Linked DNA regions of Homo sapiens. The protein of the gene in region 3 purifies or fractionates together with the protein of the main gene of each other region. This does not show direct contact. Each region holds a gene or a part of one and is shown on either strand. Other genes may lie near its edges. The genes, in order: CCNT2, IPO9, MACROH2A2, URB2, PUM3, BMS1 and RBM19.

What was found.
Region 1: the proteins of MACROH2A2 (region 3) and CCNT2 purify together in Homo sapiens (affinity purification with mass spectrometry; 2 studies listed by BioGRID and IntAct, with this or other methods). This does not show direct contact.
Region 2: the proteins of MACROH2A2 (region 3) and IPO9 purify together in Homo sapiens (affinity purification with mass spectrometry; 2 studies listed by BioGRID and IntAct, with this or other methods). This does not show direct contact.
Region 4: the proteins of MACROH2A2 (region 3) and URB2 purify together in Homo sapiens (affinity purification with mass spectrometry; 2 studies listed by BioGRID and IntAct, with this or other methods). This does not show direct contact.
Region 5: the proteins of MACROH2A2 (region 3) and PUM3 purify together in Homo sapiens (affinity purification with mass spectrometry; 2 studies listed by BioGRID and IntAct, with this or other methods). This does not show direct contact.
Region 6: the proteins of MACROH2A2 (region 3) and BMS1 purify together in Homo sapiens (affinity purification with mass spectrometry; 2 studies listed by BioGRID and IntAct, with this or other methods). This does not show direct contact.
Region 7: the proteins of MACROH2A2 (region 3) and RBM19 purify together in Homo sapiens (affinity purification with mass spectrometry; 2 studies listed by BioGRID and IntAct, with this or other methods). This does not show direct contact.

Annotation. Positions count from the first base shown.
Region 1 is NC_000002.12:134,938,903-134,942,955, forward strand, and holds part of CCNT2 (cyclin-T2), read left to right. Parts: intron 1-99; coding exon 100-160; intron 161-3,709; coding exon 3,710-3,772; exon of another isoform or gene 3,773-4,053. UniProt on the Homo sapiens protein: Regulatory subunit of the cyclin-dependent kinase pair (CDK9/cyclin T) complex, also called positive transcription elongation factor B (P-TEFB), which is proposed to facilitate the transition from abortive to production elongation by phosphorylating the CTD (carboxy-terminal domain) of the large subunit of RNA polymerase II (RNAP II).
Region 2 is NC_000001.11:201,835,503-201,839,555, forward strand, and holds part of IPO9 (importin-9), read left to right. Parts: intron 1-4,053. UniProt on the Homo sapiens protein: Nuclear transport receptor that mediates nuclear import of proteins, such as histones, proteasome and actin. Serves as receptor for nuclear localization signals (NLS) in cargo substrates.
Region 3 is NC_000010.11:70,090,846-70,094,345, forward strand, and holds part of MACROH2A2 (core histone macro-H2A.2), read left to right. Parts: intron 1-911; coding exon 912-1,109; intron 1,110-2,889; coding exon 2,890-3,000; intron 3,001-3,500. UniProt on the Homo sapiens protein: Variant histone H2A which replaces conventional H2A in a subset of nucleosomes where it represses transcription. Nucleosomes wrap and compact DNA into chromatin, limiting DNA accessibility to the cellular machineries which require DNA as a template.
Region 4 is NC_000001.11:229,639,419-229,643,471, reverse strand, and holds part of URB2 (unhealthy ribosome biogenesis protein 2 homolog), read right to left. Parts: intron 1-4,053. UniProt on the Homo sapiens protein: Essential for hematopietic stem cell development through the regulation of p53/TP53 pathway.
Region 5 is NC_000009.12:2,823,359-2,827,411, reverse strand, and holds part of PUM3 (pumilio homolog 3), read left to right. Parts: intron 1-260; coding exon 261-339; intron 340-2,596; coding exon 2,597-2,695; intron 2,696-3,577; coding exon 3,578-3,631; intron 3,632-4,053. UniProt on the Homo sapiens protein: Inhibits the poly(ADP-ribosyl)ation activity of PARP1 and the degradation of PARP1 by CASP3 following genotoxic stress. Binds to double-stranded RNA or DNA without sequence specificity. Involved in development of the eye and of primordial germ cells.
Region 6 is NC_000010.11:42,817,056-42,821,108, forward strand, and holds part of BMS1 (ribosome biogenesis protein BMS1 homolog), read left to right. Parts: intron 1-262; coding exon 263-439; intron 440-3,140; coding exon of another isoform or gene 3,141-3,180; coding exon 3,181-3,369; intron 3,370-3,452; coding exon 3,453-3,633; intron 3,634-3,878; coding exon 3,879-3,937; intron 3,938-4,053. UniProt on the Homo sapiens protein: GTPase required for the synthesis of 40S ribosomal subunits and for processing of pre-ribosomal RNA (pre-rRNA) at sites A0, A1, and A2.
Region 7 is NC_000012.12:113,963,126-113,967,668, forward strand, and holds the start of RBM19 (probable RNA-binding protein 19), read right to left. Parts: upstream 3,201-4,543; 5' UTR 3,103-3,200; coding exon 3,067-3,102; intron 1-3,066. UniProt on the Homo sapiens protein: Plays a role in embryo pre-implantation development.

The DNA.
Region 1 (4,053 bases), on a different chromosome or scaffold from region 3:
TTTTGTAATCAACCTGTAATTCTCACAAGATGTAACAGTCATGCAGTCTAGTAATGTTATTTTTATTTTAATCAATTTGATAATATTTTTATCTGACAGGCTTACCTTCAACAGACTCAAGAACTGGTTATACTTGAAACCATAATGCTACAAACTCTAGGTACGTACTTACATCAGATAATGGCTTTTTGTGTGTATTTCACTAAAGCATTCTAAATAAGTGAAAAGATTTCTGAAATAATTGTATTATTGAAGAAAGTTATTTTAAAACAGGTTTTAGACAGAATAAGGTTGCCTGGTTATAAGGAAATTACTTTTCTAGAATTTAATTTCATTTGGCATAATTAAATTGAATGGTAAACGTACCCTTCAGTATGATTTCTTAGGTTTTCAGGTAGTTGAAGTACTGTGCTTCACTCTGGATTTGCACTGGAGAGTAAAATGGTCCTTTAGGGTTGTTTTATATGATTATGATGTATACAAACCTACACAGCAATCCTTATTCTCCTCGAGCTGCCAGTCAGTATTTTATGAGTATATCACCTTTTTTATTTTATTTATTTATTTATTTATTTATTTTTAAGACGGAGTCTCGCTCTGTCGCCCAGGCTGGAGTGCAGTGGTGCCATCTCGGCTCACTGCAACCTCTGCCTCCTGGGTTCAAGCAATTCTCCTGCCTCAGCCTCCCGAGTAGCTGGGACTACAGGTGCATACTGCCACACCTGGTTATTTTTTTGTAATTTAGTAGAGACGGGGTTTCACCGTGTTGCCCAGGCTGGACATGAACTCCTGAGCTCAGGGAATCTGCCCACTTTGGCCTCCCAAAGTGCTGGGATTACAGGTGTGCGTCACCACGCCCGGCCTATCATATGATTTTTAATGTGACATAGTAATTATTTAAATGTTGGTCATCCTTTTCTAAAGGTTATATCTTTGTATGCAAGTTCATTTACTGTCACCATTCACCTTACTCAATTTACTGAAATTGAGGCCTAAGAAAGTGATGGCTTATCTAAAGTCATATGTTAGTTCTGGAAGAACCTACTAGGATGTGGTAGGAAGAACATGGGCTTTGGGGAGATCCAAGTTAAAATCTGTAGGCCTCTGACTTGCTTTGTAAACTTGGGCAAAAGTTCCTTTACCTGTTGTACCTCCATTCTGTAGAGGTGGAATAGTATCTGAGTCATATCGTGAATTTGTCATTTTTTTAATTTCATTACTCCATTCCCAGATGTTGAATAGAAGTGCGATAAATCAGTCACAATTTCCCATTGTGACAGACTCTTCGTTACAAAACTAGTTTGTGTGAAATACATATGCAGTTGACCCTCAAACAGCACGGGTTTGAACTCCATGGGTCTACATGGATTTTTTTCAATAAATAATATTGGAAAATTGGGAATTTGCAACAATTTGAAAAAACTTGTAGGTGAGCTGTAGCCTAGAAATATTGAAAAAATTGGATATGTCATGAATGCATAAACTATATATAGATATTAGTCTATTTTATCATTTACTGCCATAAAATATACATAAATCTATTTTTAAAAGATAAAAATTTTAAAAAGTTAGGCACACAAACAGACAATATGTGGCTCTATTCGCAGTTAAGAGAAAATGTAAATAAACAAATGTAAAGGTACATAAAATTAATTTTAATAATACGTAACTGTACTGCTGTGATAATTTTGTAGCCACCTCCTGTTGCTATTGCAGTGAGCTCACATGTTATGAGTATCCACGTAAAATGCTGTGTGACACCTGTCATCTCTGAACAGTTTGTCTCTCCAGTAAATTACATATTGCGGTAAAAGAGGTTCTGGCATATTTTTACCGTATTTAGTGCGATACTGGAAACTTGGATTAATACCATGGGACCCATACAAAGTGCCTCTAGTGATGCCAGAAGTGCTCCCAAGAAGCAGATGAAAGTTGTGATGTTACAAAAAAAAGTTGAATTGTTTGATATGTACTGTAGATTGAGGTCTGTAGCTACAGTTGCCCATTTCAAGATAAATGAATCCAGTGTAAGGTTCAGTGTGAAAGAAGAAAAAGACATTTGTGAAGTCATCGCTGCAGCTATACCAGCAGGCACAAAAACCTTGCACTTTATCTCATATTGAAAATGAAGCTTTTATGTGAATGCAGGATTGCTGTAAGAAAGGCATACCTATGGACTCTAATATGATTGGAGAGAAGCTTAAAGCAAAGGGAAGGTGAAGGATCTAAAGCCAGAGAATTTAATGCCAGCGAAAGACAGAAATTGTGGTGTATTTCTGTAAAGTTACACCAGGTGTTGCCTGCCTCTCCTGCCTCCTCTTTTGTGTCTTCCAACCTGAGACAGTAAGACCAACCCCTCTTCCTCAGCCTACTCTGTATGGAGACCTTTATGATGATCCACTTCCACTTAATACTAGTAAATACATTTTCTCTTCCTTATGATTTTCTTAATAGTTTCTTTAGCTTACTGTGTTGTAAAAATACAGTATATGATACATATACAAAATATGTGTTGATTAACTGTTTATGTTACCAGTAAGGCTTCAGCGGTAAGCAGGTTCTGATCAACGATAGTTAAGTCTTAGGGGAGTACTTGGATTTTCGACTGCATGGGGATCGGCACCCCTAGGCCCTGCGTTGTTCAGAGGTCAGCTGTAAATTATTTGAAGTTTCTATAAAATAAAAAGATACCAAAAAAGTGAGGGTCTTATTTCTTCCAAATCCAATGATTTAGCATGTTATTGTTTTACTATACAAAATTATATAAATTTCATTTAAGTAAAAAATTGAAAATGAAAAATCATAAATCATTATAAAATATTTAGTTGTTATATAAAATCGTAATGTAATATCCATATTGTTTATGACATATTCTTAAGCACAGAGAATGAAAAGTGTTATTTTAAGGGGAACATTAGAATTTAGAAGATATGCCTCTATGGCTTTAAAGTATTCTGCATATTTAATTACAGTAGAACTATATATAGACCACACAACAACTTTATAAATCTAGATTACCCATTTGTTAGGATTTTATTTACTTACTGCTTCTGAAGACAACCAAATGTGATCTTCACTTTTAATAAAAACAGAAACCCTGCCACACCTAAGGGTTGATTGCACGTTGATAGCTTTTAAACATTTCATCTTTGGTATTAGAAACAGTAGTTTAAGCAGTCATGAGACCTCTATGGTTTGTCATATGATTTTGATTATTAATGAAGTATGGTTATAAGGTAACTGGTTGAAACCCTTTGATCTAGAGTGCCGTATCATTTAAAAGCTCGTTTCTACCACTGTGGCCCAACAGTTATGTTTATGAAAACTGCACTTTTCATGTCTTCTGAAAGAAAGCTTTGGAATATTAAGAAAGATATTACGTAGTTGAATTCCGTCCTTAAATTGTGGGACCAGCTTAACAGTTGTATTTGCCAGGAATTTAATTTGTTTTTAAGATAATCCCGAATCATTTATAATTCAGAATTTTGAATAAATTTACCCTTGGTCTTTTAACTTTATTTTCATAATTGAGACATTGTATTTGAAAAATTATATCTTGTCATTGGAAAAGTAATGAGAATGTCAGTGATGAGAAACTTATAACTTTGGATTTTTCTTAATAATGAAGAATATATTATACGTTTATGGCATTTCTCAGGCAAGTACTGTAGTGGTAAGAGATTGGAAAAAAAAGTGCTTATCATTTCAGGTTTTGAGATCACCATTGAACACCCACACACAGATGTGGTGAAATGTACCCAGTTAGTAAGAGGTAGGTGATCCTTGAAACTTTTAAGATAAGTATTAATGCTTTTTATTATCTGTAATTGATTTGGGTGCTATTTTGTTTTTCTAGCCTTTTGTTAGGTTTCATTAAAATTAGGGAGAAATGTCATTTTTTAAGCATTACTTTTTAGTGTTCTACATCTACTTCTATTTGTGATTCTACCTGGTATGTTAGCTTCCTTTAAACATAGGTAAGAATCTCATTTCACTAAAACTCCGGAGGGCTTCCAAGTATTAGGACTCTATCCATCCCCCATTGAGCTTTGC
Region 2 (4,053 bases), on a different chromosome or scaffold from region 3:
AGAATCTAGAGTCAGGGTGAAAACCCAGATTAACAGAATGAACTGTCCTTATTTCACCATGGGAAAGGGAACTAGAGAAATTAAATTTCCTAACAAAAATAGCTTTAGAAAACAACTTCATATAGCCCTCTTGGCAGTGTTGCCCTTTGGCTCAACTTCATAGATTGAATGTTAGTTTAATCTTAAACAGTCGTTTCCAAGCAAAGCAAAATAAAGCGGATATTTATGTCTGTGTTTCTTATATTTTCCCTGCCTTCATCATCCCAGAGTAAGTTATTAGGCTATTCTTTCTCATATTTTTAAAGACATTGTGTTAAAGACACCAGGCCGGGCACAGTGTGGCTCACTCCTGTAATCCCAGCACTTTGGGAGGCCGAGGAGGGCGGATCACAAGGTCAGGAGATCAAGACCATCCTGGCTAACATGGTGAAACCCCATCTCTACTAAAAATACAAAAAAATTAGCCAGGCGTGGTGGCGGGCGCCTGTAGTCCCAGCTATTCTGGAGGCTGAGGTAGGAGAATGGCCTGAACCCGGGAGGCAGAGCTTGCAGTGAGCCAAGATCACACCACTGCACTCCAGCCCTCCAGCCTGGGTGACAGAGCAAGACTCCATCTCAAAAAAAAAAAAAAAAAAAAAAAACAGACACCAATCAGTAAAACCAGAAGTCCCCCAACACACACACACGTACTTTTTTTTTAACAAATATACTTAGTTGTATTTCAAAAAATATTGTATCTCTGTTAAGTGAAAAATCTGTAAGTAGGGTTTTACTACGTAACAGAAACCAATGGATAGGAGCAAATGTGTTGATCAGATTTAAAATAAGGCCAAGAGCTTTAGAATTATTTTCTGGCTTTTCCTTCTTTGCATTAGTTTGTTTCTTAGTTTGTTTTTTAATTGAGACAAGGTCTTGCTCTGTCATCCAGGCTGGAGTGCAGTGGTGTGATCATAGCTCACTGCAGCCTCAAACTCCTGGGCTCAAGTGATCCTTCCATGTTAGCCTCCTTAGTAGCTGGGACTACAGGTGTGCATCACCACACCCAGCTAATTTTGCATCGGTTTTATAGCACGGAGTTTACCATCAACATCATACTCCTTGGAAACAATTATTTATATAGCTTTTAAGTAAACTAAAGTATTATGGGTATGACACTCTTAAATGGTGAGTGATATCCTTGTATTTCTAGTAGGTATGTGGTCTAGACAGAATAAATTGGGTTAAGTAAAAGAATTTTGTATTTTCCCTCTTTCATCCCCCTATAACCTAATGCAAATAAGCTCTTTGTCTTTGAATTTTTGAGGCTTTGAAACATGTGGTCATGTTGGACATGTGGTCATAATTTTTGAAACTGTAGGGGTCTGTAGAGAAGGAAATCTGTTCATCTATTTTATTTTAAAATTTGTCTTTAGTTAACAATGATGATGTTATTTGAAGATTTTCTTTGCCATTATATATCTGCTTTTGAGCAAATATATGTTACTTGAACTTTAATGCTGCTTCTTTCATGCGTGAAAGAAATTAGCTTTTAGAAGGAGTCCATCTTAAAATACTTGTTGTAGGTACAGATCCCTTGGCTAACTTGGGTTTTTGGCCCCTACGTTGGTCTTAATCTTCTGATGATCTCTTATTCTCACCATCCCTTCCAGTCTCAGTGATGTGTGAAGCAAGGTGGTTAGTGGAATTTTGTATATGATCTTTGATAGGTTACCAGACATGATTAACTTATTACTGTATTAGAGTGAAGAGCTTCTAGCTACTGTGATCATCACTGGAGTGCATCCTTCTGGCAGGGATATGGAAAAAATATATTCATGCTAAGCTTTTCTCTGAAGAGAAAAGACTTGGAATTCTCTGGTTGATGAGAAAGGACCCTTAAGCTGTGATAGGACCTATGTGTAAAGTTTGCCTGGTCTTCATGCTCTAATGACTCCTGTGATCAGTGCCAGAGTGAACTGATGGAAAATGTGTGGTTCTTTTTCCCTTTTGTGAGCTGTGAGCCTCAGTATTACCCTACAGCTATATGAATATCAGTGCTTTCATTGGAAGGACAGTTGTTCAGATTTGTTTAAGCTTAAAGTCTTAAGTTTCAAACCCTTCTCAAAAAGTCTCATTCCTCAGTATCTTTTCACACTGTATATTGAAGAATTTCTTCATTTTGATCTTGTTTTAGTTTGTCCCTGTAGTAATGATCCAAAAATTATGCTCTTGCTAGGAACATTAAAAGTCCAAATCATAATGACCTATGGAAAAATTATTTAAATCATGCCTTAAAAGAAAATACTAGGCCAGGCACGGGGGCTCATGCCTGTAATCCCAGCACTTTGGGAGGCTGAGGCGGGCGGATCACTTGAGGTTGGGAGTTTGAGACCAGCCTGACCAACATGGAGAAACCACATTTCTACTCAAACTACAAAATTAGCTGGGCGTGGTGGCACATGCCTGTAATCCCAGCCACTCGGGAGGCTGAGGCAGGAGGATCGCTTGAACCCGGGAGGTGGAGGTTGCGGTGAGCTGAGATTGCGCCATTGCACTCCAGTCTGGGCAACAAGAGTGCAACTCTGTCTCAAAAGAAAAAAAAAGGAAATGCTGTTATGTCCCAGATAATTTGTGAATGTGCTTGTAGATTATTGTGAAGGAAGTTACATAAGGCACACCAGAATTGGTTCACCATGTCCAGGGAGGCCAATCCTGGGTGGACAGTGACATTCTAAGCAGACTTGAAGCCATGAAGTCTAAGTATCATCCATTATCACACTAAGTATCTGAACTCAAAGGAATTGTGGATGCCCTTACTAGTTGTCTTTCTCCTTTAAATGGATTTCACATGTGCATTTTAGAGTGCTTTTTTCCATTGAACTGGAACATTGCTATCCAAGAGATGTTCCTGAATTATCTGACTCATCTGTGTTTTAGAATCAGTTCTGATAGTTGACTCCCATATCTTCGGGTTGTAGATACCTGTTGTTTCTTCTCTTGCTACAAATGGGTTTTATAGATTTAACCAGAGTCTGTACTAACCAAATTAATCCTAAGAATTAGAATGGATTGCAGTATCTGTAGGGGGATTGTGCAAGTTTCAAGTGTTTGCTTGTGATTTAATCATTTAATAACTCTTTCAGAAAGAATGTGGCTTCTTCTGTGGCGGTCATGCCAAAAAAAAAAATCCACTTTCCTGAGTGAAACAATAGGTGCCATAGGAGTGGATCAAAAACTGCAGCTTAAAGGCATAATAAGAATGAATTAAGAATCTAAGAATTCAGTAAAACAGGACATAAAATATAAAAATCAATAGCTTTCACATACACAAACCATAAAAGGTTAGAGGACGTAATGGTTTTTTAAAAACCAAAACCAATTTACAGTATCAACAAAAAAGTAAATGCTTAGGAAATGTGTAAGAACCTATTAGAGGAAACTTTTTTTTTTTTTTTTGAGATGGAGCCTTGCTGTGTCACCCAGGCTGGAGTGCAGTGGCATGATCTTGGCTCACTGCAACCTCCGCCTCCTGGATTCAAGCGATTCTCCTGCCTCAGCCTCCCAAGTAGCTGGGACTACAGGCGCCCGCCACCACGCCCGGCTAATTTTTGTATTTTTAGTAGAGATGGGGTTTCACCATGTTGGCCAAGCTGGTCTCGAACTCCTAACCTCAGGTGATCCACCTGCCTTGTCCTCCCAAAGTGTTGGGATTACAGGCGTGAGCCACTGCGCCCAGCCTAGAGGAAACTTTTTGAGACAAGATTTTGCTGTGTCACCCAGGCTGGAGTGCAGTGGCTCAGTCTCAGCTCACTGCAACATCTGCCTCCCAGGCCCAAGTGATTCTCGTGCCTCAGCCTCCCAAGTAGCTGGGACTTCAGTCACGCACCACCACGCCCAGCTGATTTTTGTATTTTTCGTAGAGACGGGGTTTCACCATGTTGCCCAGGCTGGTGCCTGTAGTCCCAACTACTCGGGAGGCTGAGGCAGGAGAATGGCGGGAACCTGGGAGGCGGAGCTTGCAGTGATCCGAGATCATGACACTGCACTCCAGCCTGGGCGACAGAGCAAGACTCC
Region 3 (3,500 bases):
GATGCTTGCTATACTTCTGTTGTCACTGACGGGTAACTACCAGTTCATGGGTGAGCCATGGTCGCAGACCATGCTTGGGGTAGTGTTGGTTTCGAATCTGCAGAATATATTAGTGGAGTAGTACGTGTCTGTTCTTTGCAGATAAATTAACTTATATTGATTGGGAGGAGCATGGCCAGACATACTTTACTGATGGAATGTATGTGCAAGCTTGTGGAGACCACTGGTTCATCATTAACTGGGTCTAGTCTTTGCAATGACCTTTGAACATCATTTTCTCAAGCTGCGCTCCCCACATGGGAAGCTTTTTATCCTGTGTTGTGTCTGGAATTCCAGAGCCCTGGGCAACATCCCTGGTTTCAACTTCTGTGTCCCTTCTATTTTGCTTTACTTCGTTTTGCTTTCTGTACAACATCACAGGATGCCTTGTTAACCTACGGAGAAATGCTCTACAACTGAAAGTGGGAAAAGCCAATTAAATGGTGTATTACGCAGTTTCTTTAGGAAAGCGGAGGCCACATTTAACAGTTAGAACCGTATTAAGTCCAGGCCAGGCACAGTGGCCCACGCCTGTAATCCCAGCACTTTGGGAGGCCAAGGCAGGTGGATCACCTGAGGTCAGCCGTTCGAGACCAGCCTGGCCAACGTGGTGAAACCCTGTCTCTACTAAAAATACAAAAATTAGCCGGGGTGGTGGCAGGTGCCTGTAATCCCAGCTGCTCAGGAGGCTGAGGTAAGAGAATTGCTTGAACCTGGAGGCGGAGGCTGCAGTGAGCCAAGATCGCGCCACTGCACTCCAGCCTGGGTGACAGAGTAAGATTCTGTATCAAAAAAAAAAAAAAAAAAGAACTGTATGAAATTGGGAACTAGCAGGCTGTTTGCTACATGAGCGCATGCATTTCTCTCTTCAGCTGCTAAAAGGAGTGACCATCGCCAGTGGAGGCGTCCTGCCCAGAATTCACCCCGAACTGCTGGCCAAAAAGCGAGGGACCAAAGGCAAGTCGGAAACGATCCTCTCCCCACCCCCAGAGAAAAGAGGCAGGAAGGCCACGTCAGGCAAGAAGGGGGGGAAGAAATCCAAGGCTGCCAAACCACGGACGTCCAAAAAGGTAGGCCGAGGCTGCGTGTCCTGGGCCAGGCACTCCCACTGCAATGGTCTGAATGTCTGTGTTCCCCCACAATTCATATGTTGAAACCTAACCCCAGAGGCATAGGATTACAAGGTGTGGGCTTTGAGAGATAACTAGATCATGAGGGCGAGTCCTCACGAATGGGAACAGTCCCCTTATAAAAGAGGCCTGAGGGAGGCAGAGGGACCCTTCTGCCATGTGAGGACACAGCTAGAAAGCGTCATCTACCAGGAAGTGAGCCCTTGCCAGACACAGAACCTGCCTGCGCCAAGGACTTCCTGCCTCCGGAACTATGAGAAACAAGTTTCTGGGCCAGGCACAGTGGCTCATGCCTGTAATCCCAACACTTTGGGAGGCCGAGGCAGGAGGATGGCTTGAGCCTAGGAGTTAGAGGCTGCAGTGAGCCATGATGGCACCACTGCACTCGAGCCTCGGTGACAGCGCAAGACCCTGTCTCTTAAACAAACAAAAAAAAAAGAAAGTGGTTTCTGTTGTTTGTGAGCCAGCCAGTCTATAGCATTTTGTTAGAGCAGCCCAGGCAGACACTAAGACGCTCACAGAACAGGAGGGAAGTTTAAAGATGAGACAATGACTTCGTAGCAGACACCTCTGAAGGACCGAGGACTCTTGCAGCTTGGTGCCGGAAGAAAATGACAAGAATGTACAGGTAAAAGAATAAAGGGCCTTTGAGGTTAGAGCTGAAATGGGTCTTCTCTAGGTTTCCAAACCCTAAGCAGGGATGGTTTTCAGATCCCTTTTACTACCCCCAGCAAAATCTGAAGTGAGCGATGATAGCCAGGAACCTGCATTTTATTTCTCTGCAGAGCTCTGTGTTGCCTTCCAAACAGCCTCTAGTCTCCTGCAGGCATTCCCTGAGTTCCGCCAGTGGAATTTCAGGTGTTTGGCATATACTTGATATACTAGGTGTTTGGGTTAGCTTGATATACTAGGTAGCTTAGCTCAGAGATGCCACTGATAGAATAATGTTTTCCTATGTTGCCCAGTACAGTAACCACTGGTCACATGTGGCTTTTTTTTTTTAAGAGACAGGGGTCTCACTCTGTCACCCAGGCTGGAGTACAGTAATGCAGTGGCGAGATCATAGCTCACTGTAGCCTCAAACTCCTGGGCTCAAGCGACCCTCCTGCCTCAGCCTCCCAAAGCATTGGAATTATAAGTGTGAGCTAAGGCACACAAGCCAAGGCTATTTGGATTTGAATTAAAACTAAATCAAATTTAAAATTCAGCTCCTTGATTGTACCAGCCACATTTCAAGCACTCAGCAACATTATTGAGGATCAAGATGAATATTTCCACGATCACAGAAAGTTCTATTGGACAACCCTACTGTAGAAGTTGTGGATGTTTCATTCCACACTGCCTCTGTGCCCCGAGAAATCCTGGGGAGAAAGAAGGCTAAGCAATGGGCTATCAACGGCCCCACCCAGCTCCGATGCTTGTCGTCGTGAGCTGCAGGCATTGAAATGAGCAAGGACAATGTGCTGGTGCACAGGGGTAGGTGAGGACTGCAGGTATGTGTGAGCCCTTTAACACACTTTCTATTTTGCTATTTTGCGGTACCCTTTTCTTTCCTTATATTGCTGACTTTTGCTCCCCTCCTTCAAGAAACAGCAGAACACATCACCTAACCACTTCCTTTCATATTCAACTTGGTGGCAGCCGTGAGAAGAGCTTAATAAAGGCACCTCAGGCTTTTTCTGGATTGGTTCTCATCTTGCCTTTTGATTTTTACCGACAGTCCAAACCAAAGGACAGCGATAAAGAAGGAACTTCAAATTCCACCTCTGAAGATGGGCCAGGGGATGGATTCACCATTCTGTCTTCTAAGAGCCTTGTTCTGGGACAGAAGGTAACAAAGAGAATTGCCTTGTGCTATATTAAAACACCACTGTATTTTTATAACCTACTGTTTACAAGCAATGATGCCTCCTTTCCTCCCCTGATAATGATTTTCACTGCAGTCTTGAATTATTCATTTTTAAACTAAAGAGCTGTGGCAGTGTCAGCATTGTGAGAGTGAGAATTGTTCTTTTTTGCTGAGAATTGTTAACGCTAACATTGGTCAGACAAGGGTGAGCATGGAAGCTCTTTCTGGTCAGTAGATAGGATGGCATTACTGGTTTTGCTGGGAATTCCCCACACCCCAGTTATTTCTACATCTGCCAAAAAAAAAATCCATAGCTAACTTTCTCAGACAGCTTCTGAGAGGCCCATCTTACATGGTTCAATGTAATTTATCAAAGAAAGAAAATAGAAATATATGTTTCCCAAATATCCTTGGTATTAGAAATGAATTATTTGCCAATAATTCAGTCTGCCTGCCTTCCTAGGCTTTAGAAAGTAAACAAA
Region 4 (4,053 bases), on a different chromosome or scaffold from region 3:
CATAGGATGAAACTGCGCACAGCTGTGGCCGCCATCAAAAATCACCAAGTTAGGGGCATGGTGATATAAGCACTGGTGGAAAAAGCAGGTACACGTAGTTACTGTGATGCCATGCTCTCACACGCACAGCTACGCCTGTGCATTGTGTGTACACACACAAACACAGAAGACGACAGCCATGCTTAGGAGGTAAACCTGAACCACAGAAGACAGTGATTATTGCTTTGTGCGGTTGACCCTTGAACAATGTTTGAACTGCATGGATCCACTTATACATGGGTTTTCTTCTGCCTCTAGCACCCCTGAGACTGCAAGACCAACCCCTCCTCTTCCTCCTCCTCAACCTACTCAGTGTGAGGATGAAGAGGATGAAGACCTTGATGATAACCTACTTCACTTAATGAATGGCAAATACATTTTCCCTTCCTTGTTATTTTCTTAATAACATCTTCTTTTCTCTAGCTTACTTGATTGTAAGAATATAATACATAAATACATACACAAAATACGTGGTAATCGACTGTTTATGTTCAGCAAGGCTTTGGTCAACAGTAGGCTATCAGTAGTTTAGTTTCTAGAGAGTCAAAAGTAATACAAGATTTTTTTAATAGAATTGTATCAGAAGGATATACACGGAATTTTTTACTGTGCTGGGGGTTGGTGCCTTAACCCCTATGTTGTTCAAGGGTCAACTGTATTTTATTTCTCTATTTTCTTTGTGTTTCTTTATAAAATCGGTAGGGCTGCAAGAGTAGGTGGTATTTTAAACAGATGGGAAAGTCAGAAAGACTAAGAGAGCTCCACTTTTCAGGCCTGGATGACTGTCAGGAAGTCACCCAGCTGTTCCCCATCATCCCCAGTGTCCTTGGGCCCACGGTTTCACAATAACGCCCAAAGCCAGGGCACTCAAGGCCCTTTATCGTCTGGCCCCAGGTCATCTTTCCAGCCAGCGCTTCAGCCCCATCTGCCTATTCCACATTGCCAGAATACCTTCCTGCTTTCCTGTCTTTGCTTACTATTTACAGCACTGGGGGAAAGGGGACTTTTGAGAGGTAAAGACCTAGGTCCAAGTCTCCCACAAGCTGTAAAACCCTGGACCCATGATCTCTCTGAACCTCAACTCCCTCATCAGTGAAGTGGGCATAACAGCACCAACTCCTGTGGCTGGCAAACAAAAAAAGGCCACAGAGCTCACAACATAGTGCCCTCACATGAAAGGCTCCCATTTCCACCTGCCCTAGCTACCCTTCAAGGGCCACTCACACGTGGCCTGTATGTGGCCTCTCCACCGAGTCCCATCGCTCTGGTTCGCTTTATGGCGTCTCCCCCACCTTTACCCTGTGATTTGTGCGAATGTCTGTTTACTTAATTACATAGGCCAAAATCAACACCTCACTCATCTCCAGAGCAGGATACAGCCTCAAACATACAAGCATTTTAATTGGTTTTTTTTATGTTTCTGGAGACAGGGTCTCACTCCATCACCCAGGCTGGAGTGCAGTGGCACAATCATGGATCACTGCAGCCTCGACCTCTTGGGCTCAAGGGGTCCTCTCGCCTCAGCCTTCGGAGTAGTTGGGACCACAGGTGCATGCTACCCACACCGGCTTTTTGTAGAGATGGGGTTTTGCTTTTTCACCCAGGTTGGTCTCAAACTCCTGGCCTCAAGTGATCTCTTGGCTCAGCCTCCCTAAGTGCAGGATTACAGATGCCAGCCACCACTCCCAGCCAAGAAGCATTTTTAGAAGTGTTGATTTCTGTAATTGAATTCAGGTCCTCTGTTCTGCTGTCAGAAGGCATTCTTTACAAAAGCCCACCTCTGAGCCATCCTTAAGGACACAGGGAGAACTCCATGGCTGGGGCACCTGCACGGCGCCTCTTCACACTCCCTCTCCCTGCCCAAAGCCTTGGGCCACTCCTCACTTGGCATTTCTTCCAGAGCACTCACAACTCTGGCACTTCCCTGGACAGTATCTAACAGCTCAGGTGGAAGAGGCCTGGACACAGCAACACCCCAGGCCCATGAGCTGAGGGCACAGTGTGGCAGGCTGGCCTTGCCCAACCCTGACCACACTGTGACCGAGGTGCTCTGTCCCTGAGGAAATAAGGTACCAGCAGTCCAGGGACATACACTTAGGACTTAAAGACTGCCTCAACTTGGCCAGGCACGGTGGCTTATGCCTGTAATCCCAGCACTTTCGGAGGCTGAGGCAGGCAGACCACTTAAGGTCAGGAGTTCGAGACCAGCCTGGCCAACACGGTAAAACCCCATCTCTACTAAAAATACAACAATTAGCCGGGCATGGTGGTGCATGCCTGTAATCCAAGCTACTCAGGAGGCCGAGGCATGGGAATCGCTCAAAGCCGGGAGGCGGAGGTTGCAGTGAGCCGAGACCGGGCCACTGTACTCCAGCCTAGGTGACAGAATGAGACTCTGTCTCAAAAAAAAAAAAAAAAAAAAAGAGATTGCCTCAACTCAGTAGGGTTGAAGAGGAAAAGGAGGACACAATATTCTCTTTAGCTAAGGGGCACAGGGCAGAGCTTCAGACCACCAGCTGCCATTTCTTGGGCCAGTCACTTAGAACACTGTAATTAGGCTTAATAAAAGACTCTATTTTAGCCCCCATTAAGAAGGTGAACACCATTCGCTAAAAGAGACCCTAACACAATAAGACAGAACAATGTAATATCAAAGCCTTTCAGTTAATCCACAATCCAGCCAGAGACAGGTTACTGAAAGGGAGACAACAGCAGCGTGATTTGGCCCATGGCACTTCAGTTCTGGCACTGGCACAGGCAGACCAGATGGCTTTACTTTCTGCGAGAACCCATTTAACCCTCACGTACCGAAAGGCACGCCCGTGGCCCCACCCGTCACAGCTTCTCCACCCAGAAACACAGAGGTTAAGGTGTGCTTAACACAGACGTTAATGTGACATTAACGAGGGTCAGATTCGGCTGACTTCCAGACCTCACCTCAAAAGACTGACCTGACCCCAGCCCTTTCGTTACCACCAAAACAAAAAAGAAAAGACCCCCCACAACTGTGATGTGTGCCATCTTGAAACAAGAAATCTCTTCCATTAACTGTTTGTTTGGGAGGAGTAAAAGTGTGTTTTATTTGTATACCCTAATAAAGGTAACAAATCTTAATCATCCTTCACTGTAGAGGAAAACCTCAACAAACTCTAAATGGGCCTCCAAAAACATTATAATCTATCCCCTGCTTATGGCATATTTAATTAAATCATAGAAAAGTATTTTGATTTATTCTTATTAAAATGCAACATTAAAGTGTACAAAATAAGAAAATAGCAACAATCACAACATGTTAATGCAATAATACAATGCATGTTAATACATGCATGTTAATACAATAATTATTTTAATTTTTGGATGGGTTTCTAGCCTTTGTCTGCACGCATGTATATCTTATATAGCTGTAATTGTGGCATATTTAACATTTCATACTGTACTTTTTTTGCTTAATATTTTCTAGATATTTCTAGCCCTTGTCTTCATAATAGTTTTCATAATTATATTTTTAACGGCTGCATAGTAACCCATTAACCTTTCACCAGGGGGGCTGTAAAGGTCGACTCTGTGCAGGAAGACATGAGCTCTCTTGCTTCGAGGCTGTGTACGAGGTCCTAGTTTGCTGCTTGGAAGGCTGCCTTCAGACTAAAACACTTTGATGACATTGAAGGTTAGCCTTGGTCCAGTGAGCACTTGCACCTGGCAGCACCCTAATATGGTGGGGGGACAGGGGTGAACTAAGGAAGGCACAGTCCTGTCCTCAAGGAACTGTAAGAGGCTCTTTGGAAATTAAGTGATTTGGCTGGACATGGTGGCTCACGCCTGTAATCCCAGTACTTTGGGAGGCTGAGGTGGGCGGATAATGAGGTCAGGATATCGAGACCATCCTGGCTAACATGGTGAAACCCTGTCTTTACTAAAAAATACAAAAAAATTAGCCGGGCGTGGTGGCGGGTGCCAGTAGTCCCAGTTACTTGGGAGGCTGAGGCAGGAGAATGGCATGAACCCGGGAAGCGG
Region 5 (4,053 bases), on a different chromosome or scaffold from region 3:
TGTTGATTTTATGTTTGCCGATTAAATACTAGAAGTTTATACTCTGGTCTTGGTTGTAGATGGCACTAAATCAATTTTACCATCTAAATTTTTGTTTAAGTTTTAGTATTTCTGAAAAATACAGTCTATTTTATGACAAATTGTATTCAGTAAAACCATTTCACTTGTTTAGATTACTTTAGGACTTTGAGATTACCTGTCTTTGTATGACTGTAGTGCCAGATCTGTTGTGTCTTTTTGCTTTTTTTTTCTGTTTTCAGGGAAGCTGTGATTAAGCACTCATTGGTGCATAAAGTATTCTTGGACTTTTTTACCTATGCACCCCCCAAACTCAGATCAGTAAGTTCTTGGTTTTTGTTTTTAAACTAAAACATGGAGGAGGAGCGGTGTAGAAATTTGAAAAACTGCTTTGATGTACGTTGTCTTGTGGAAATTTTAGAGTTGCTTCCTTATTTAGGGAAGATAATTTACTCAACTCCCTTTGAACACGTTTGCTAATTCCATTTAGGTTTTATTCCAGTAAACAATAGAATTGACCCTAGTTTTACTAATCATATTAAATTTTTATATCTTAATTATAATCCAGAGAGTATCCGCTGGCTAACCTAATCTGAAAATTAACTAACTCGTGGAGGAATATTCAAGCATTCGGATAGTTTTAAATTCAACTGTGCTAATACAAAAAAAAAATTAGCTTGGCATTAAAAGGTTAGAGGAGGATATGTTTGTAAAACTAAGTGGACGATGAAAACCTGGACTTTATATCATAGAAGAACAGAGTGAAGGTAAATTGCACTGCCCTTCAAGTCAGTCATGGGAATACAAATGAGAATTCATCATTTAGTTCCCTGAACTTTGCTTGCCTCATCATACAGTGAGCTCATTGTCCATTTGTCCTCATTTTCCAATCACAAGGGATAATGAAAATAATGAGACTGACTTAACAAATAACGCCAGACTATACATTCATTGGAGTTTTGACCCTCTTAAAATTGGCATGCAAAATAATTTCCTGATGGTAGCCACCCACGTAAGCTTATGGTTTGATGACCATAGCAGCACCTTCTGTTTTGGAGATTTTTCTTACTTCCTGAAAAATACAGTATCCCACGGTTCTGAGGCAGGACTATATGCTCAGAAATGACACAATGATTATTTGAATATATTCAGTGGTAGAAAGTATCTTTTTAGTGTTGAATGTTTCAGTAACAGCAAAAAATCATTTGGAACTTAGCATGCGTGTAAAGTAATGAGACAAATTGTCTTTTCTGGTATTGGGGGCATTTTCAAAAGAGACTTAAAAAAAAAAAAACCTTCGGGGAAAATGGAAGCATAATTGGAATATATGCATGGCTTTCCATCTGGATAGCTCTGAAGAGATTCCTAAGTTCAGATATGTTAGTTGAAACTGCTCTTGAGAGTCATCTTGGGAAGGGATTGTTAGATACTTGAGGCTGAAATTGTTTGTTCCTTATTGATGAAATTAGGCACCTACCCTCTCTTTCGTGGCATGAGGCTTTGTATTTATTTAATGTACATTTTTAAATTGGGAATAGACTAAAATGGAGCTCTGCACTTGTTAGTTGCCAGAACTCATTTACATCCTACATGCCTTAGACTTTGAAAATATAGGGCCAGGCACGGTGGCTCACACCTGTAATCCCAGCACTTTGGGAACCCGAGGCGGGCAGATCACAAGGTCAGTAGTTCGAGACCAGCCTGGCCAATATGGTGAAACCCAGTCTCTACTAAAATACAAAAATTAGCCGGGGGTGGTGGCGGGCACCTGTAGCCCCAGCTACTCGGGAGGCTGAGGCAGGAGAATTGCTTGAACCTGGGAGGTGGAGGTTGCAGTAAGCCAAGATGGCACCACTGCACTCCAGCCTGGGTGACAGAGCAAGACTCCGTCTCCAAAAAAAAAAGAAAATGTAAATAAGAAATTATATACATGGAAAATGAAGGCTAAAGGTTAAATTAAGCTAAGCTACCTAGTGAGAAATTAAATGTTTTTTACTAAAGGGTCATTTTATAGGTGAGGTCTTAGTCTAAATGTTAGTATAGAAATTTTTCATGAGGAAATGTTATGTAAGCGTGTTTATGGTAAAGAATGTGATTTTTGGAGATAATCCAGTTATGAACTGAAAAGGGAAGCTTTTCAGTCAAAATGAGTGTTTTGATTCTGTTTATTGCATACAGGTCTCTTTTGGGGAAGAGCATTTTCTTTGTCTCGCTATTCTGTTAAAAGCTCCCTTCTTATCACCACCACCTCCTAGGCTTCTTTTTCTTGGAAAATTATTTAGAATATATTATATTACACATATAGCTTGACCTTTTTTTTAACAGACATTGGTAAAAGTCAGGTATTGTTTTTAATAGATATTGTCTGCCAGCAGTATTTACTGCTCTTGATGGAAAAGAACATTTCTAGAAAGAGCTCGTGTTTCTGTTTGATTGTCTACAAAATGAAATTGTTTGCTACCTGGCACTCTCTTCCTTTCCTTCTCTCTGCATAACTGCCCCCTGTAGACAGACAGATAAAACAGTAGAAAGAAGAAAATAAAGCAGAGCCCTGTTCCTGACAGCATTTGTTCCCTAGGAAATGATTGAAGCCATCCGCGAAGCGGTGGTCTACCTGGCACACACACACGATGGCGCCAGAGTGGCCATGCACTGCCTGTGGCATGGCACGCCCAAGGTAAGTGTGACAGCACTTGGGCATTTAAACTGTACAAGTCAGGGCCATGCTTTATCTGCAGGCTTGACTTAGCTGTCCTTAGACTTTTAACCCCCTTTGGTCTTTGCCCTGTTGTGCATTATCTTCCAAAAGTTGTGCCTTAGAGCCTGATGGGAATGAGCCATCTTCTTTAGGCCTAGTGTTTCTTCTTTCCTCTGCTTTAGTAGAAACCTTGAAGTTTCATTAAAGGATGGGAAGAGATCTATCAAGCAAGTAAACATAATATGTATTTAAGCTTTAGTTTATAGAGGTTTTGGTACCTCCTCTTTTAATGATCATACTGTGGCAGGGGAAAATGGGAAGAGATAACAAACAGCTGGCCACACACATTTGCTCCCATAGGTGTTATGTACTTGAGGGAAAAGGTAAAGATCCTTATTAATCACAGAAGTTTAACAGAAATTATCATTATTTCCTTGGTCAGCATAATTCTGCCTTTAAAAGATAGTTGTACTATATCTACTTTTTTTAATGCAAATTTAATTTTATTCAACAAATGCAGATGAGTACTAACTGTTTGCTAGACTCTGCATTTGAGGACAGTTTAGACCTTGGAAGAAGGATCTGTCTGGTCTCACTGTGAAAGGTGGCTTGCAAACCCTAACCCTAACCCTAACCCTAACCCTAACCCTATCACATACACATCTAAGCTTGTAATAGCTCTAAGCCAACTTCTTTGGTATATTACAGTTTTTTTGTTCTGGCTGTATAACTATTATTTTTACTAATGAAAACATATGCCACTCAAATGAAAACTTAATAAATATTATATTAAAATGTTTAACTACAAAATACCCTTAATACATAACTGAAAATTCAGTGAGACAATCTTTCCTTTTTAAGGACAGGAAAGTGATTGTGAAAACAATGAAGACTTATGTTGAAAAGGTGGCTAATGTAAGTATAATAAAACTACATATTCTAATTATTTTTGATAGTAAGATGAATTCATGTCTATTATAGAAAATTTGGAAAAATTCAGAAAATTACCAAGCAGAAAATTATTGTTTTATTATATTTTTCTTTGCATCTACATGTATTTTCATATTTTATCTACACAAAATGGAAATCATGTCACATGCATTCTTTTCTCCTTTTTTAATTTAACATTGTATTGTGATAGTTCTCTACTTTTATTAGATATTCTTTGAAAACCTGATATTTACTAGCTTTTTTGGTGAATTTGTCCAGTCATGTTAATTAAATATGGGAATTACTGCCTGGATACAGTATGTACATATTTTAGTCTCTGGGTAAATGATGCCAGATTGCACTTCAGAAACTTGATAGTAGTTTTCCTTATGACCAAAACCATAAAA
Region 6 (4,053 bases), about 27 Mb from region 3:
GACACGTCTGTTATTTTTATTCTAGTTTGTGTTCCCAGCCAGCTTAAGGATTAGCAGCTAATTGTAATGCAGATGTAACCATTTCCTGTAGCAGTACCATGTTATTCAGAGACAAAGGTTGTGTTGTGTTTTCTTTTGTTTTATTGATAATGATAACAGATTTTTGCTAAGATTCTTGTTTAAATAGAACTTTAAAAAAGCTAATGTTTAAAGAAAAGACCTTCATAAACATACACAAAATTTTTTCTTCTGGAAATTTAAGAATGAAGATATAGAGAAAGAAGTTAAGGAAGAAATTGACCCCGACGAAGAAGAAAGTGCCAAGAAAAAGCATTTGGATAAGAAGAGAAAATTGAAGGAGATGTTTGATGCAGAATATGATGAAGGAGAAAGCACATATTTTGATGATCTTAAAGGAGAAATGCAGAAACAAGCACAGGTGAGAAACCTCAGTTCCTCTCAGCCCCTTGTCAAGACTATCATATAGCGCAGGAATCCCTGACTTTGTTTGGGTCCCTACGTCCTATCCTGCTTCTGTGTATCCTGCTTCTGTGCCTTTCATTCGGACTCCTGGGTAGAGATGCATGTGAGTGTGTTTATTCATGCAGTGAGCTCATTGTTTCTGCAGTCAGAGGGTCACCAGAAAAAGATCCATACCTATTTTGTAACAAGAATTAGGAAACAGAAATGACTGAGACATGGTCTCTACTTTTGAGACATGGTCTTACAATGTAGTGATCTGAGACAGTGTGTTCATTTCAGTGCAAGCATTGGCGGCCTATTCCAATCGCTGCTCCCTGATTTGAATGGCAGGTGATCAGTGGCCCCTGTGGCTTATAGACACACCAGAGCTCCCAGGGGAAGTGCTCTGAAAACTCATCCTGGTCAGAGTTCAGAAGGACATGTGGAGTATAAGGTCAGATGCAGAAATAAAGGGAGATGGTGTGGCCCTCCTGCCTGGGGATGCTGAGCAGGTTGCTGGAGGCGGTGATCTCACTCTGAAGGAGACAGACACAGAAACGTGTGTACAGTTGATGGTGAGCATCTGAGTTGCGTCTTGTTAGTGAGGCCAGGAGTGCCTGTGTAAGCTGGAACAGATTAGGTATATGATTTGTGAAACGGAGTTTCATCCTAGGTCTTCATCTAGTCAAAGGACTATTTCCTGATTAGGCATTAGCTTAGTGGTTGCTAGTCTGTGTTGACCTTTGAAAGGCATGACTAGGCTAACTCTGAAGTTTTTGCTTCACACCATTTACAATTTAAAATTACCTAGAGCCTTGTGGGCCATTGGAAAAGACTGAATGTTTCACTCTGAAATGGGAGTCCTTGGAGGGTTTTGAGCAGAGGAGAGGTAATCAGATCACTCTGCCAAGAGATCAGTCGGGTGGCACAAACCAGAAGGCTGGCAGTGGAGATGAGAGAAAGAGTCAAACCCGGATAGACTTTATTTGGAAGCTGGGTCAGTAGGATTTCCTGGTGGACTGAATGTGGGGTGTGTGAGAGGAAATGAGGATGTCGACTGGAAGTTCCTGGAAGGACGGGTTGTTGTAAGTTAGATAGGAAACCCTCTGCAGATGCAGTTTTGGGAAGATGATGTTTGGTTCGGCTGGGTATCATGCAGACAAGTGAAATGTCAGGTCTGGAGAGAGGTCTGGCCAGGGACTTAGATGTAGATGCCCTCAGCATGTAGATGCCACTTAACGCTGTGAGGTGGCCGGGAGTGAGTGCAGAGTGAGTGGGAGGAGCAAGACTGGCATGGGCGAGATGGGGCGATTGTGGCCGTGAGTCCTGAGCAGTGCCTAGGAGGGAGAAGCAGTGTGAGCATGCAGGCACACAGGAGGCCAGTTGTACATGGAGGCGAAGCATTGTTCAGATCCTGCTGCCATGTTAACTACGGTGAAGGCAGAGTTCACCACTGGAGGAGTCCTTCAGCGTGGAGGCCTTCAGCAATCTTGGCAAGCACCAATTTTCATGGATGTAGGAGAATGGGAGCAGAGGAACTGGAGGCTGCAACTGCAGAAAACTTTTGTGGGGTTTTGCTGCAGAGAGAAGCAGAGAAATGAAGCCGTTGTTGGTGGAAGAAGTGGAATCAAAAGGTTTTGAGATAAGAGAGAGAACAGAGGGAAGAGCTGTTGGAATAAAGTCCAGGAAGAGTGGATGGTGTCTAGTGAGCAAGTGATGTGTGGCCCTGAGTAGAGGCATGGACAAATATTCTGTGCCTGAGCTGCCTGTAGAACTTTCTGTGATCATCGAGATGCACGTCAGTGCTTCCCAATATTGTAACACTGGCCGCAGGTTGATATGGACCACTTCCAGTGTGACTAGTGTGATTGAGGAACTGCATTTTAAATATTATGTAATTGTAATTAATTTTAATGTAAATAGCCACTCATAGCTCCCCTATGGGCCAGGTCAGAGCTCTGATAAGGCTGGATATGGGAGGAAACCCTGGTAGAGGGCTGACCGTGGAGGTTCTTTTGGTTTTGGAGTGAATCAGGAAACAGCCATCAGCTGAGTGAAGGTGAGGGTGGTGGTGGGTGTTTGAAGACAAGGGAAAAGTGTGAAAGAATTGTTCAGAAAGGAAAGAAAGAAGATGTGGACTGGGGACGTTTCCAGTGTTCGGGCATGCAGGGCTCCACAGTTATCTACATTTGCTGTCCCTTGGAGCAGGAGAGAAGAAAACGGTTGGGACATATTCTGAGCAGACTGTAGAGGTAAAATATGTAGGTCTTTTTTTTTGGTTTTTTGTTTTTTGAGATGGAATCTCGCTCTATTGCCCAGGCTGGAGTGCAGTGGCACGATCTCGACTCACTGCAACCTCCGTCTCCCGGGTTCAAGCAATTCTCTCACCTCTGCCTCCTGAGTAGCTGGGACTACAGGCACGCACCACCACGCCCAGCTGATTTTGGTATTTTTAGTAGAGACGGGGTTTCACCATGTTGGCGAGGCTGGTTTCAAACTCCTGACCTCATGTGATCTGCCCACCTCGGCCTCCCAAAGTGCTGGGATTACAGGCGTGAGCCACTGTACCTGGCCAAATGTGTAGTATTTTTAATAGGGTAAAGCCTACATAATTCTGTCCACAGTTCCTTTACTTAGAAATTGCTCATTTGTTCATGTTAATCTTATGTTTATTACAGATAACAGCATACAGGTTTTTTTATTCCCCATCATGTACAGCTGAATCGCGCAGAATTTGAAGATCAAGATGATGAAGCCAGAGTTCAGTATGAGGGTTTTCGACCTGGGATGTACGTCCGCATTGAGATTGAAAATGTTCCCTGTGAATTTGTGCAGAACTTTGACCCCCATTACCCCATTATCCTGGGTGGCTTGGGCAACAGTGAGGGAAATGTTGGCTACGTGCAGGTGGGTCCCTTTGCTACATATTTGGTGCCTGAGGCTCTGTGGATTTCCCCTCCATCAATCATCTTACCCTCTCGTCCCCTCAGATGCGTCTGAAGAAACATCGCTGGTATAAGAAAATCCTCAAGTCCCGAGATCCAATCATATTTTCTGTAGGGTGGAGGAGGTTTCAGACCATCCCACTGTATTATATCGAAGACCACAATGGAAGACAAAGGCTTCTAAAGTATACCCCACAGCACATGCATTGCGGAGCAGCCTTTTGGGGTAAAATATGATTACAATAACTTGCCTGTTGCCAAGATTAAACCTTACAGGCTGCGTTATTATAGCTTTGTGCTTTTCTTTCATAAAATTCCACTCCTAAGATTTTTCTCTTTTCTGGGAGCGGGGAGGTGGTTTGGAGTATATATGTAAATCTATATCCAAATCTAAATGTCCATATCCAGTATGTTAAACTAGAATCTAAAATTTGTGGTTCGCTATATTTCTTTTTTTCCTTTTCCTTTAAGGCCCTATCACTCCACAGGGAACTGGTTTCTTGGCAATACAGTCTGTCAGTGGCATAATGGTAACTATCTTGGATGATTTCTTTTACAGATTGGTTTGAGAAATATATCCTGGGTGTGGGTTATTATGTACATGAGACTTTAAGTTGAAAATTACTCATTTTTATTAATACAAAGT
Region 7 (4,543 bases), on a different chromosome or scaffold from region 3:
ACTGCAGCCCTGCCAAAGCCTTGATTTTAGGATTTCTGACCTGCAAAACTGTAAGATAAGGATTGTCTGGATTGTTTAAGCCACTAAGTTTGTGCTAATTTGCTATAGCTGCACTAAAAAACTAACACACTATTATTATAATTTGGTCAAGAAGCCCCACACTATGGAAAACAGGCTCCTGGCTTCTCACCATCTTCACTGCAGCCAGGCTACCCTCACAACTCAGTTTTCTAAGCAGATACTGGGATATTTGTGTGTGTGGTAGTGGAGTTGAGGGGACATTCAGGGCCCCACGAACAGCCAAAATAAGTTTGAAAATGCAAGAAGCTAGAGGCCTTGGCAGTCCAGCCAGAAGATGACATTTTCTGAGGTAGCTTCTTACTAACTGATCTAATCAAAATCTCAATCACACTGTGAGTTAGGAATTTTTGTCCACATTTTATAGAGAAAATGAAACTCATAAGGGATAAATGATCTGCCCAAGGCCTACAGAATCAAGGTTTGTGACTCAATTCAGAAATATAAGACAGTGAATTCAATTCCTCAGTGCCTGGGAGAGACCTGGCTCAAGTCTGAATCCATCATTCCTTTGCCAAAAACCTTTCGGTGACTTTCTGGCACCAAAGTCTCAAGGACGAGCACCTAAAGGAAAACATGCAATTCTTCAAGATCTGCCCTGACCAACCTCTTCAGCACCACGCTTTGACAAATTTCTCACAGCCTTCTCACTTCCGAGGTTTTACTTTGGTTGTCCCCTCTGGGTGATATTTCCCAAGACAGGCCCTGGCTAACTCCTCATTCTCAGTTCAATCATCTCCTATTCCAGGAGGCCTTTCTTAGATGCCTTAGATGGACGAGATAACCAACCCTCACTGTGCTCCCACAGCACTCGGTTCACATGTCAGTGATGCACCTTGCATCGTAATGATCTGGTGCCTCTCTTTTCTGCTAGCCTGCAAGTCCCATTAAAAATAAGGACACAGGCTTATCCACCTCTATCTACAGTGTCAGCAATATCACAAGTACTCACTACTAATTATTTCCTCAATTCAATCCCTAAACTAAAGATTGCTCAATTCAATCCCTGCTCTATAAATTACACCAGTGTGTGACCTCAGGCAAATCCCTGTACCTCGCTGTATCTTGGTTTCTTTACCTTTAAAATGGGCGTAAAAATAAAACTTACCTCACAGGGATATGGTGAGGATTAAATGTTACTTTACCTAAAGCACCTGGAACAGTGCCTGGCACACAGTAAACTCTCCAAGTGTCAGCTGCAACTGCCCTTGTTTTTATTATTCTTTCATTCATGAGATAAGACAAACAATGATAAGAGAGTCAACTACACTGTGAAGTGCAACAAAGCTGAATTTGGGAAGAAAAGGAAGTGCAGCCACGCTAAAAATCCTCATCGCACAAAGCAAGGCATCAAGAGACATGTCTAACCTGATGGATGGATGAGTAATAGATATTTTTAAGTATACTACTCAGAGATTATAACAGGATAATTAAAAACAAGAATATTACAGACACTGGAGAGGAGGAACAGATGATCTAAATTCCTTATTTTTCACAGTTGAGGCCTAGCAGATAGTCACTGGGGCAGGCAGGTCAAAAGGAGGAAAGTACACTCCTCAAATATACAGAGATACATGTGAGGAGTCCCAAAAACAAATCAATGAAGATGGTTACTCCTGGACAGAGAGGGAAGGTAGGACAGAGCAAAGACTTTGCTACTCATGTTATACACTACTATACTGTTTGAATTTTGAAAACTGTGTGTTACAAAGTTCCTTTGTCCCACCTGACAAATGAAAAAAAAAAAAGGAAAGGAAAAAACTCACAACATTAGAACAGAAATGGGGGCCAGGTGCAGTGGCTCACGCCTGTAATCCCAGCACTTTGGGAGGCCGAGGCGGTGGATCACCTGAGGTCAGGAGTTCGAGACCAACTTGTCCAACATGGCGAAACCCCATGTCTCTACTAAAAATAAAAAAATTAGTCGGGCTTGGTGGCGCGTGTCTGTAGTCCCAGCTACTTGGGAGGCTGAGGCAGGAGCATCGCTAGAACCCGGGAGGCAAAAGTTGCAGTGAGCCGAGACTGCCGAGATTGCTCCACCGCAGTCCAGCCTGGGAGACAGAGCCAGACTCCGTTTAAAAAAAAAAAACAAAAAAAGAAAAAAACAAAAAACAAAACCAAAAAAAGCCATGAAAGAGAGAGAAAAAAAAGAGATAAGACAAACAATGATAAGAGAATCAACTACACTTGAAACACAACAAAGCTGAATTTGGGAGGGAAAGGAAGTGCAGCTACGCTAAAAATCCTCATCCCACAAAGCGAGGCATCAAGAGACACTGTCTAACCTGATGGAAGGAGCAGTAATCCATTTAAAAACAAAAAAACAAAACAGAACAAAAAACAGCGAGAGAGAGAAAAAAGGATGATCCATTCGAGCCCACCGCATCTAATCATCTAATATTACGTACATTCACCTATTTTGCCTACCACGTGTCGGGTTCTGCGCTGGGCTCCAGGGAAACAAAAAAGTATGGCTGGGTCACCACTCCCCACTTACTGGATAAATGCTGTAAAGCCCTTTACCCACTCCGTATTCCTACTTGCCCTAAGGATGGGAGTGGGAATTGGAACGCAGGTCCGCAGATTAATATTCCCCATGTCTTCCCCAACAGTTTCCAGACTGGGAGAGGAATATAAATACAGTGTCGGACCATGTCCCGGGTCAACAACTAAAAAACAGTGATCGAATGAAAGAGGTTGTGGGAGCAGGGTATTCGCCACAAGGTGGGAGTTGTCATCTCCCCGAGAAGAGGTGTGTTAGGAGTCAGGTACCAAACAACCGGCCGTGAAACCGTAAGCAGTCACTATTCCTCTTTCCTCGGGATCAAATGGGGATAAGCCCAGGATCCCGCCCCCTTTGAGTTCAGAATTGGCCCGGAGTCCTGCCCCAGAGCAAAAATTCTTCGATCACCTCCAGGCATCTCTTCCCTACCTCACAGCTCCCGGCTGGTCTCATTTCAGATTCCCAAGTCCTGCCTCTGCACTCACCCCATTCGGGAGATTCTTCACGATCAGTCGCGACATGGCGCAGGGTCCCCGCTGTTTTGATTCCAACACGACTGGTCAGCGTCTTCCACCAAGTTTCACGCTACCGCCCTGGGCGCCGCCATCTTTACCGAGCCGGAACACAGTCACGTGGCTGAGACCTTGGCCTGACCTGTCCGGAAGTAGGCGTGGCTAATCCAAAACTACTCAGGGAGGTCACACCCCACAAGGGGTGGGCCTGGGCGCTTGCATTTTGCGCAGGCGCAGGGCCTTGGGCGGATTCTGTGAGACGCCAATGCAGCGGAGAAGGCGGCAGGGGGCGCCGGTCCCTAACATGCGCCGGTTTAGCTCGGTGTTAAGGGTCGCGCCAACCGGGCAATCGCGTTCTCTCCTTTTTCTTATTTTATTTTTATTATTGAGCCTTAGGACTCCCCTGAGAACGGGGGCAAGATTAGGGACCCTTGCCTTCCTCGTAGAAATGGGGAAAGTGAAGTTTAGAGAGATTGCCAGCCAACACAAATCAAGTATTGAGCCTTTTGTGTAAATACTTGGAATGAACATGTTGGAAATAAACGCTCTCATTTTGCAGGCAGATAAACTGGGAATCGTGCGTGTAAAGCAGCTTGCTCAAAGTCTTATAACTATGAATTGGAAAGTCAGATTCGAGCTAGGGACTGCCTAGGGCCCTACAATGAGTCTCTACGCCTTCAACCCCAGCCCCACAAGCATTTTGCCTCCCTTCCTAATGTTTGGAACTCTCAGCTGGCCAATCTTCTAGCTGAGAGATCTTGGCCAAAATGGCCTCTGAGCCTTTGTGTCTACTTCTATAAAATGGGAATAATTCTTTATTATGCTAGGGGTTAAGGAGGTGAGAACGTGAAAGGGATGTTATTTTCCTATTGCTTCTCTGAGCATTCTCGGTACCTACTCTTGGATGGAGACATCCTATGAAAACCCCTATTTTCACTCTTAAATGACGGTATTTCCTTTCTGTTTCCCCACAGTGCCTCAGCTGCACTGGACGTTGCTGCCAAGCTTCTGCAATTTCCTTCACCTAAAAGACATTCCGTCCCCCCTTCTTATTGTTAACAGCTTTATCACAAACCATGCAATTCACCCACTTAAAGTGCACAATTCAATGGTGCTGACTATATTTACAGAGGTGTGCAGCCATCACCACAATCAATGCTAGGACATTTTCATTACCCCCAAAGAAACACCACACCCTTTAGCTATAACCTTCCAATTCCTCCCTCTCCCTTCCCTCTGATAACCACTAATCTACTTTCCGTCTCTATGGATTTGTCTGTTATGGACATTTCATGTAAATGGAATAATACAATATGTAGTCTTTTGTAATTGACTTCTTTCACTTAGCATAATGTTTTCAAAGTTCTTCCATGTTGCAGCATGAATCAGCACTTTATTTATCTGTTTATTTATTTGAGACAGGGTCGGGCTCTGTCACCCCGACTGGAGT